Linked DNA regions of Homo sapiens. The protein of the gene in region 2 interacts with the protein of the main gene of each other region in a pairwise test. Each region holds a gene or a part of one and is shown on either strand. Other genes may lie near its edges.

Region 1 (3,463 bases), on a different chromosome or scaffold from region 2:
CAAGAGCATGCCACTACACTCCAGCCTGGGTGACAGAGTGAGACTCCGTCTCAAAAAAAAAAATTACGTTTTCTTCTGATTAGTTGCTCAACTGTTCCTATATGCTATTCTGAGTCTAATTGCAAGCTCTTTTTTCCTTAGCACAACTCAGCAAGAAAAGGATCTAATAGAAGATTCCTCTGTTCAGAAGGATGGTCTCAATCAGACAACTATACCAGTTTCTCCTCCAAGTACTACAAAGCCATCGAGGGCAAGTACTGCTTCACCATGTAATAATAACATAAATGCAGCTACAGCTGTGGCTCTACAGGTAACTTGAAGATTTTAGTTTATGTTAAAAAAAATACAATAGATTAGATTTTTTTTTTTTTTTCACGTAACACTTTGTTAGAACAGAGTCATTTGGAAGTAGCCCAAGTTGGGGCTGACTATCAGAAAGAAGCTTAAGGAGTGTTAGGGTCACTGCAAAGAGATGGAAAGTTTTAGGCTTTTTTTTGTTTTGTTTTGGAGACTGAGTCTTCACTCTGTCGCCCAGGCTGGAGTGCAGTGGCACGATCTCGCGTCACTGCAAGCTCCGCCTCCCGGGTTCACGCCATTCTCCTGCCTCAGCCTCCCGGGTAGCTGGGACTACAGGTGCCCACCACTATGCCTGGCTAATTTTTTGTATTTTTAGTAGAGACGGGGTTTCACTGTGTTAGCCAGGATGGTCTCAATCTCCTGACCTCGTGATCCACCCGCCTCGGCCTCCCAAAGTGCTGGGATTACATGCGTGAGCCACCGCGCCTGGCCCATTCTGTTTCTTTTGATTGCTTTTTTTCTGTTCATATGGTTAAGTGAAGCTTCTTCCTTACCCACGTTAGGATGAATTTATCATTTTGGGGCTAACATAAAGAGGCCTTGTGCCTCTTGATATTCTTTTGGTTGTATATGTGATACTTAACAAGTCTATAAGTGGCCATTGAGAGGCCACTCCCATTTATCAAGTTCCAGAATTGTTTTATAGTTATATAATTGGGAAAATACAGAAAAGCAGAACAAAACACAAAATTTACCTATAATCCCTAGCATTTTAGTACAGCACTTTTAAAAATAGATTTAGAAGACTATCTTCTCATTCAATGATAGTAATAATACTAAAATAATAGCTACCATTTGAATGCTTACTATATATTATTAGGACTAGTGCTGAAGACTTTACATGTTTTATTCTGTTCTCACAATACCTCTATTCCACCTTTTTCAGTTGAGGTAATTAAGACTTTTAATGAGTCTTTTTATACCATTGGATTCTAACTGCTCTGCTGGGATTCTTTTGTCATCTTTCTTGGGGTTCTTTGTAGCAAGGAAACAGGAGCAGAAAGAACCATTTTATTTCATCATATGGCTATACCATTATTCATCTAATCTGTCCTTTGTTAGGCATTTAGGTCGCTCCCATCATTATAAACAACGCTGACATGAACATCCTTCAGTTAAATTCCTTACGTGAAATTATTGTATAATAAATAAAGATTGTACCAGTGTACTCTAAGCAGTATATATGAGAGTGCTTGTTGCCCTTTTCTGGAAGATAATCTGTGGTTTTCTTATGGTTAACACAATCATTTTTATACTTTATAATTTAAAGAATGTGTACCATAAATGTTTTTTTTTATCATCACTTCAAAGGAACCCCGAAAGTTAAGTTATGCTGAAGTGTGCCAGAAGCCCCCTAAAGAGCCATCTTCAGTTCTTGTGCAGCCACTACGGGAACTTCGCTCCAATGTGGTGTCTCCCACCAAAAATGAAGACAATGGAGCTCCTGAGAACTCCGTTGAGAAACCACATGAGAAGCCAGAAGCAAGGGCTAGTAAGGATTATTCTGGCTTCCGAGGCAATATAATCCCCAGGGGAGCAGCAGGAAAAATCAGGGAACAGAGACGCCAGTTTAGCCATAGGGCTATACCTCAGGGAGTGACTCGACGTAATGGCAAAGAGCAATATGTGCCACCCAGATCACCAAAGTAAAAAACAACAAAACTATTCAAAAACTTCACTCTCTTCCCATTAAACTTGAACTGTGGCTATATTGAACTGTTTTGGAGGGGAGGGGGTAGCCAGGAAGGAAACAAGAGAAAGTACGTCCATTTCATTATGGATTTTGGAGTTGTGAGTGATAGGATCCCAAAATTCATCTCTAATGTGGTTTTTAAATGCTGGAGGATTCCAATCAATATAAATATATATATATATATACACACACATATATAAAAAGTATAATTTTTCTATTTTTGTTTTTGGTTTTAATTTGCAGAGATTTGCTGCCAGGAATCAATTTTGAGGGTTCAGATTTAGCTTGGAAGAAAAAAAAGAAACATACATCCTTCAGTATAGGAGATGAGGGAATGAGAGAAAATATTTTTTGAAGAAGCATTTCTGTAAAATTAGAAATTACTTTTTTTAATCTATTTAAAGTTTGGCTTGAAGAATGCCATCTCTGACTATATGGCCTTGTATTGCAAAGCGGATCAGTGGCTGGGGTGCCTGTTGTGGGTGTGAGTGTGTACAAGAGCGATTGAAGCCAAATCTGTTGTCATGTTAGTAAATGATTTGAAAACTGAATGTAATACTTGAGTAGATTTTTTTTTCTAGTTTGAAATTTAGTCTGTCTTTTTGACCTTACTAATATTTCATTTAACAAGTTGTAAAACTCTGATTGTACTTAGAGATGTGACTACCAATCAGTTTGATACTCAAGGAAAGGGGGTTATTCAAGAAATTGAAAATTTCATCTTGGACCTCAGTGCATAGGTCAAATGGATTTCAGAGGTTTAAACTTCCCTGTGATTCCCCCGAATACCCCCAAAATGAGAAACAAAATTTTTTTTCTTACTCCATTTGTTACTCTCTGTTCTTTGACTGCCCACCCACAGAAAAGCAAAATAACCAACTACCTACTCAATTGTGTGTTTGTAATTGCTTTGAGCAGTCTAGTCAAATCATATAAATTGTTCTAAATTTCAGAATTGAACATTGAAGTATTAACTCTTCTGTTCACACATTTAGAATTTTAGCTCCCAAGATGGTAGGGCAGACTGACCGTACAGTAATTTATTTGTCGTTAGTGTTAAAGATTAAGCATAGTAACTGACTCTTAAGTGTTAAATAATGTAGAAGTAAAAAAATTTTTTTTAAAGGCTTAATTTGGGAGGGGGGACTTATTTCTGTTTACAGTGTATTACCTTCCTTCCCTCCTCTTCTCCCCCCACACCCAACAAAATACAGTTTGGAATTCACTGAAACAGTACCAGCAAGTCATGAGATTTTTTAGTAAAGATGAGAAAGATGGTTGAAGAAAATTAGTGCATAATTTCTCAGTGAATAAAGTTGTAGCTCTCATATACTAAATAGACAAGTTTACATGCTGTTATTTAGAAAATGACTAAAATATTAAAAACCGTGTTGTGTTAATCTGTTTTAAGTC
Region 2 (3,653 bases):
CTTTCCGGACCTTGGCCTTTGACCCAGACATAATGGTGGCCACAGCTTCTCTTTCTTCTTCAGGTATTTGCAACCTGTCCCAGAGCTCTCGGATTTGAGTACGCAGCCCCTCACACACTGCTTCATTTTGTGATTTCTGCATTTCCAGCTACAGCATAGAAAGCCAGTGTCACTCACGGCAAAGCAGCAGCACAGAGGCTAGCCCTCTAGCCTCCCGCAAAGAAATGTCTGGAGTAGAGGAGGAGGCACTTTCATGAGAGTTCAAAGTAGCATGTTTTCATGCCTCCTAAACACGAGCTGTAAGGCTGTCGGGATCTCAGACCCCAAGAATTAGCATTCAAATTTAGAACTGAAAAAAATTTTAATTAAACACTAGTCTAATTCAAATGACTAATATTATTTCATCTATAATTTCATTTTCTTGGAGCCATATAAAGGTTTTTTAACTGTTAAACAAAAATCAAGGTTGTATATCATATATTACTATCCTTAGCTTCCCTCATTCTCTTACCTTACATTGTCTCCTTATTTAAGACTGAAGAAACAGCTGTCAGTTTTGTTCAAACTGCTATATACTACGGAGATCCTAGGGCATAATTTGAGAAGACAGTACCTGCCGTAGCAACTTTTGTAGTGTTGCAATATTCTCCAAAGACAAACAAAAGGCATCTTCGTCTTCACACACCACATCTCTTTCAAAGCTTGTGTCTGGGGTGTGGTCTAATGCTTCCATACACAGTATGATCTGTCTCTTTATACTGACAAACTCCTCACGCCTAGAAGCCTTTAAAACAAAGCAATTACAAGATACCTAGAGGAAAACCAAAGTGACTTTTAGGAAGAACAAATGTAGGCAGTGTACCTTTGTTTCCCTCAAAGTTGTCACATGTTGCCTGAACTGGTTCAGCTCTTCTAAGCTGGGCACTGAGGCACTGTCAATATCATAGTGGGGCATACAAAGAATTTCGCACAGTTCTTGATCTTGCTCTTGAAGTAGCTTCAGTTCCTGTTTTCTCTCCTTTTTCTGTTTTCGCATCAATTCCACTTGGGTGCGCAAATCTTTTTCTAGTTGCAAGATGGTCGTCTCTCCTTCTTCCTGAATAAGACAACGTACCACTGTTATAAGATTCCAAGTGAATTCCTTCAGAGGAAGAGAAGGACAACATAAGAAGGCGTGGATGACAGACTTTCAGTTAAACTAACAAGTAAGTCAACTCATGGTCAACAGAATATGGCACAAAGAGGGTCTCCTAAGGAAGGTCCCAGTGAGGAAAAGTGAGTAAGTACCAGGGTACTTTTCCCCCCAATTTTAAAACTTGTGGTAGAACACATATAACATAAAATTTACCATCTTAACCATTACGTGTACAGTTCATTGGTATTAAGTACAGTCATATTGTTGTGCAATCATAACCATCACCTCCAAAACTCATTTCCTCTTGCAAAAGTGAAACTTCATACTCAAACAAATAAGTCCCCATTTTTTCCCTTCTCCAAGCCTGGCAACCACCATTCTACCTTTTGTCTCTATGATTAGACTACTCCAGGCACCAGGCACTTTTATAGAATGTGTAAATTGGCAGCCAGGCACGGTGGCTCACGCCTATAATCCCAGCACTTCGGGAGGCCAAGGTGGGCAGATCACGAGGTCAGCAGTTTGAGACCAACCTGGCCAACATGGTGAAACCCCGTCTTTACTAAAAATAGAAAAATTAGCCAGGCATGGTGGCGGACACCTGTAATCCCAGCTACTCGGGAGGCTACGGCAGGAAAATCGCTTGAACCCGGGAGGCGGAGGTTGCAGTGAGCCGAGACCACACCATTGCACTCCTGCCTGGACAACACAGCGAGACTCTGTCTCTAAATAAATAAAGAAATAACAGTGTAAATTGGCTGGAAAGCTTGCTTTGGGTTAGCTATAGGGTGGCATGCCTAGCTCATATCTAAATACTCATCCTGCTAATCCTATGAACATCGTCTCACCTTAGCAACAAAAACCCATCTGGTAGTCCCTGCTCTACTCCTAACTGGTTAACAAGAAAAAAAAAAGTGGCATTTTTTTATAGGACATATACATTTTTCTTAAATGTCCTATACATTTACACAATTTCATTTAACATTGTGAACTAGGAACATCAGGTAACTTAAGGGAGATGATCGTTGTACACCTCACTTCTCGCCCAATTTCACATGGAATGTGAAAAAAGAAAGAGAAACTATGTCCAAAATCAATTATATTTATGACATTTATGTTGACTCCAGGAAGCTCCACTTCATGTTCTCTTCTGCCTGATTGCTCTTGGCTACCAAGTATGAATTATCCTTTGCCCTTTAAAGGTGATCTCCCTCCTAAGCTAACTCCAAATAGATATCCAGGCAGGTCTTCCTGTAACAGGAAGAGGGACCTGAGAACCTTATGGGTGTACTCATTGTCTTTCCAAGCTCCACATCTGTCCTAATTTTTATGATCCTGGCACTATTTTTACTGGTTCTAAGCAGAGATTTTCAGGACCCCATCTGTTATTCATTTCATCCTTGCTGTGTCCTCACTCAAGTCCCTGACTTGCAGTGGACCACAATATAGCCACTTCTCAGCTCCATACCCAGATGGATGTCATGGCATGCTCTGAAATGGACTATGCACTCCCAGTATTCCAGCTTTTGAGACATTTCTTCTGAAGAAGCCATTTTGGCTGGTTCAGTGGTATGCAGCTTCTGGGTATGATAAAACCCACAAAGGTTGGTGTTTTCATAGTATTCCTTTTAATCATTAGTTACTTTTGTTCCTGTTTTCATTTTCTTTCAGAGAAAGAACACTGCAGCACCATCTATGCCTACCTTTTTCTCAGCGTTTATAAAAAAAAATTCATATTCCCTACAAAGCAAAACTATGGTAAGCAGCAGCTTCTTTTTGATCATCTATTAGTTGCTTCACCTCTTACCAGGGCAACTCTCTACAGAGGTGAGAATTACTCTGCTGGGCCTAATTAACTACACAGCATGTTTTCCCCACTTCTTACGTCTAGCTCCATCCCTACGAGGAAGCCTTCCATCTGCAGGCCCAAGTCAACGTTGCTTTCTAAGTCTCAGGCCCCAGACAGATCACCAGAGACCCTGTGGGCTGCCACGGACCTGAAATGGCTCAACATGTAACTCGCTGCACAGAGTGTTCAGCTCTTTCTGACAGACGGATATGCTTTTGATGAGTCTTTCCTTCAGGCTTTCCTCTTCAGCAATCATCATATCCAGGAGTTCCTACAAGAGGGAAAACAGTCCATAAGTTTGGGGCAATGGAGGAAAAAAACTCCCAACACCAATACCAAACTCCTCAAATTTCTTTTTTCTTTTTCTTTTTTTCTTTGAGATGGAGTCTCGCTCTGTTGCCCAGGCTGGAGTGCAATGGCGTGCTTTCGGCTCACTGCAACCTCTACCTTCCGGGTTCAATAGATTCTCCTGTCTCAGCCTCTTGAGTAGCTGGGATTACAGGTGCTCACCACCATGCCCGGCTAATTTTTTTATTTTTAGTAGAGACGGAGGTTCACCATGTTGATCAGGCTGGTCTTGAACTCCTGACCTCAAGCAATCCATGCGCCTCGGCCTCCCAAAGTGCTGGGATTACAGGCATGAGCCACCGCACCCAGCCTCCTCAAATT
Region 3 (3,653 bases), on a different chromosome or scaffold from region 2:
CACAGTGAAACCCCATCTCTACTAAAAGAAAAAAAAAATTAGCTGGGCATGGTGGCGGGCGCCTGTAGTCCCAGCTACTCGGGAGGCTGAGGCAGGAGAATGGCGTGAACCGGGGAGGTGGAACTTGCAGTGAGCCAAGATTGCGCCACTGCACTCCAGCCTGGGCGACAGAGCAAGACTCCGTCTCAAAAAAAAAAAAAAAAAAAAAAAAAAGAAAGAAAGATGAAAGCTGATGGTAGGACGTTAGGTTTAGTAGCTCAACATCCAATTCAGTAAATATTTGCTAAATCCCCTTATGCTAGGCACATGGAGGATGTGGAGGTCAATCCCATCTCCATATCCTTCGAGGAACTCAGAGCTTAATTTGCAAATTACTGCATTTGACATCTTTAAATGAATTCATATCTTATGTTTGCCTTGGCTGCAGAGTGAAGCCACTGATTCTAATCTGTTTTGTTGTGTCCCTAGACTTCTGTTAGGTGCCTGGATTAGAAACCTCAGATTGCTTCCTAAGCCTTTTCATCCATTAATTCGCAAGTCCCTGAGAAAGACCCCGTCTTATGTAACAGAGAGTAGCAATACTTGACAATAACAATAAGGTGCCTAATGGCTTACAAAAATGCCTACACTTGCTTACACATGCTTTTACTCATTTAATCTTATCTGTGTCCCTTCAAGGAAGGTAAGGTGCAGATTAGGATCTCTGTTTTATAGTCGAGGAATCTGAATGGAAGCCAAGAAGCCATGATGCTATTGAGTGGCCCATTTCACGTTGAAATCCAGTCTTCTGTCTTCAAATTCAGTGTACTTACCACTATCCTGCCCGGATTGTATTTATTCAGTATTTCCTGAGCACCTAGAATGTGTCAGTTCTGTTTTAGCCTGGAGATATCATGGTAGAAAGGTACAGAGTCCCTTGCTCTCATGCAGCTTATATTCTACTGGCAGCAAACAGAAAAATACAGCAGTAAATGAACAAGGGAATTTGGATGAGGAATAAGTGCTGGGGTGAAATCCCATCTCTATTAAAAATACAAAACTTAGCTGGGTGTGGTGGCACGTGCCTGTAGTCCCAGCTATTCAGGAGGCTGAGGCACAAGAATTGCTTGAACCTGGGAAGCAGAGGCTGCAGTAAGCCGAGGTTGCGCCATTGCACTCCAGCCTGGGCAACAGAGCGAGACTCCATCTCAAAAAGAAAAAAAACCCAACAAACAAAAAGAAAAAGAAAAGGCCTTGCTAGGATGGTGACGTTTTTGCTGAGATTTGCTCCCAGGGACGGGCCAGCCATTTGAAGACATGTCAGAAGGAAGAGCAAGGGTAAAGGCTGTGAGGTGGCAACAAGCTTGGTAAGTTCCAGAAACTGCAAGAAGGCTTACAATGGCAGGGACAGGTGAGTCAAAGGCAGAGTGGGGAGGTGGGTGGATGTAGGGGATGGAAGTGGTAGGGAGCGCTCAGATCATACAGGACCTTGTCTGCTAGAGTAATGAGTTGGGATTTTGTTCTAAAAGCTGTGGAAATCATTGGAGGTTCTGGAGAAGGGACGTGGCATGATCTATTTTTGTTTTTTAAAAAAATCACTCTGGCCTCTTTGTGGCAGTGAATTTTAGAGGGCATAGGAGTGGCAGCCAGGAGGCTAGTTAAGAGGTTAGGTGAGAGAAGATAGTGGCTTTCTAGGTTGGTGGCAGTGGAGATGGTAAGAGGACGGATTGGGGATGTGTTTCGGAGGTAGAACCAGCAGGATGGCGGGATGAGGGTGAGAGAATAAGGATGACTCCTGGGTTTTTGGCCTGAGCAATTAAGTAGATGTTAGAGATGCCATCTGCCTCTGAAATGATGAAAGGACTTTTTGGTAAGGGGCCCTATGAGGAAGAATTATTCATAGTTTATTTTGAACCCTGTAGAGGAGAGGCACAAGGTATAAGCATCATACTTTATAGTCTGTGGGGAGGAAATCCCAGATTATGCTGGCAGAAGCTAGCCAGGTGCAACTGATTGAAGCTTGACGTTCTTACTGTGAACCAAAAAAAAAAGTCCTGCTTTTCTACAGTCTGGCTTTTTGCCAGCCTGTGGAGCGGCAGGTGTGGGCTTTGCCAGGGCAGTACCCATCTGTCTTTCTGTCTTGTGCTGTTGGCATTGCAGTGCTGACTCGGGATCTTGGCTGAGGGAGCCTGGCCAGCTCTGGAAGAGGGAGCGGAATCACTAGTGAAGTTCACTTGGTGTGCCAAATGGCCACATTCTCCCTGCCAAAGTGGTTCTTTCCTGGTCACCAAATGACAGTTCTGAAGTTTCAGAGCTTTTGACTTCAGAATCCCTGGAAAACCTATTGTACTCTACCAGAATTCCTAGAGGATTCTTGAATCTCTTCTGAGCAAGGGAATTCGAGCTTCATTGTTATGTATTCCAGTAACTGTACTTGTAAATCTGGGCATTACAGGGTTGTACATTCAACATTGTGAATAGTAAAACTAATAGTCTTATCACTGCCACTTGTTTATTTAATTAAATTTAATAAATTTATTCATTTTGGAGACAGGGACTCCCTCTGTCACCCAGGTTGGAATGCAGTGGTGTGATCATGGCTCCCCCACAGCCTTGAACTCCTGGGCTCAAGTGATCCTTCTACCTCAGTCTCTTGAGTGGCTGGGACCGCAGGCATGTACTGTCGTGCCTGGCTAATTTAAAAAAAAATGTTTTGGGGACGGGTGTGGTGGCTTATGCCTGTAATCCCAGCACTTTGGGAGGCTGAGGTGTGCAGATCACGAGGTCAGGAGTTTGAGACCAGCCTGACCAACATGGTGAAACCCCTTCTTTACTAAGAATACAAAAATTAGCTGGGCGTGGTGGTGCGCACCTGTAATCCCAGCTACTCAGGAGGCTGAGGCAGGAGAATCGCTTGAACCCGGGAGGTGGTGGTTGCAGTGAGCTGAGATCGCACCACTGCACTCCAGCCTGGGCGACAGAGTGAGACTCCGTCTCAAAAAAAAAAAAAATTCTGTAGATGGCTAGGCATGGTGACTCACACCTGTAATCTCAGCACTTTGGGAGGCTGAGGCACGTGGATCACCTGAGATCAGGAGTTTAAGACCAGCCTGGCCAACATGGGGAAACCCCATCTCTACTGAAAATACAAAAATTAGTCGGGTGTGGTGGTGCATGCTTGTAGTCCCAGCTACTTCGGAGGCTGAGGCGGGAGAATCGCTTGAACCTAGGAAGCGGAGGTTGCAGTGAGCTGAGATTGTACCACTTCACTCCAGCCTGGGTGACAGAGTGAGACTCCATCTCAAAAAAAAGAAATTTGTAGAGACGGGTCTTACTGTATTGTCCAGGCGTCTTGGCCACAAGTGATCCACTCACCTTGGCCTCTCAAAGTGCTGGGATTACAGGCATGAGCCGCTAATTTTTTTAGAAAACTTGGTCTCACTCTGTTGCCCAGGCTGGAGTGCAGTGGTGCAGTCATAGCTCATTGTAACCTCCAACTCCTGGGCTCAAGCGATCCTCCCACGTCAGCCATCCAAGTAGCTGAGACTACAGGTGCATGCCACTACACCCAGCTAATTAAAAAAAAAAAATTTTTGTTTTTAATTTTTATTTTTTGTAGAGATGGGGTCTTGCTATGTTACAGGCTAGTCTCAAACTCCTGGCTTCAAGCAATC

The links.
Region 1: the proteins of PRC1 (region 2) and LARP4 interact in a two-hybrid assay, tested with the Homo sapiens proteins (one large-scale study listed by BioGRID).
Region 3: the proteins of PRC1 (region 2) and KIF3B interact in a two-hybrid assay, tested with the Homo sapiens proteins (one large-scale study listed by BioGRID).

The regions. Positions count from the first base shown.
Region 1 is NC_000012.12:50,473,858-50,477,320, forward strand, and holds part of LARP4 (la-related protein 4), read left to right. Parts: intron 1-141; coding exon 142-310; intron 311-1,668; coding exon 1,669-2,007; 3' UTR 2,008-3,463. UniProt on the Homo sapiens protein: RNA binding protein that binds to the poly-A tract of mRNA molecules. Associates with the 40S ribosomal subunit and with polysomes. Plays a role in the regulation of mRNA translation.
Region 2 is NC_000015.10:90,980,886-90,984,538, forward strand, and holds part of PRC1 (protein regulator of cytokinesis 1), read right to left. Parts: intron 3,256-3,653; coding exon 3,133-3,255; intron 2,894-3,132; exon of another isoform or gene 2,807-2,893; intron 1,206-2,806; exon of another isoform or gene 1,097-1,205; coding exon 863-1,096; intron 785-862; coding exon 614-784; intron 149-613; coding exon 1-148. UniProt on the Homo sapiens protein: Key regulator of cytokinesis that cross-links antiparrallel microtubules at an average distance of 35 nM. Essential for controlling the spatiotemporal formation of the midzone and successful cytokinesis.
Region 3 is NC_000020.11:32,280,528-32,284,180, forward strand, and holds part of KIF3B (kinesin-like protein KIF3B), read left to right. Parts: exon of another isoform or gene 1-1,346; intron 1,347-3,653. UniProt on the Homo sapiens protein: Microtubule-based molecular motor that transport intracellular cargos, such as vesicles, organelles and protein complexes. Uses ATP hydrolysis to generate force to bind and move along the microtubule. Plays a role in cilia formation.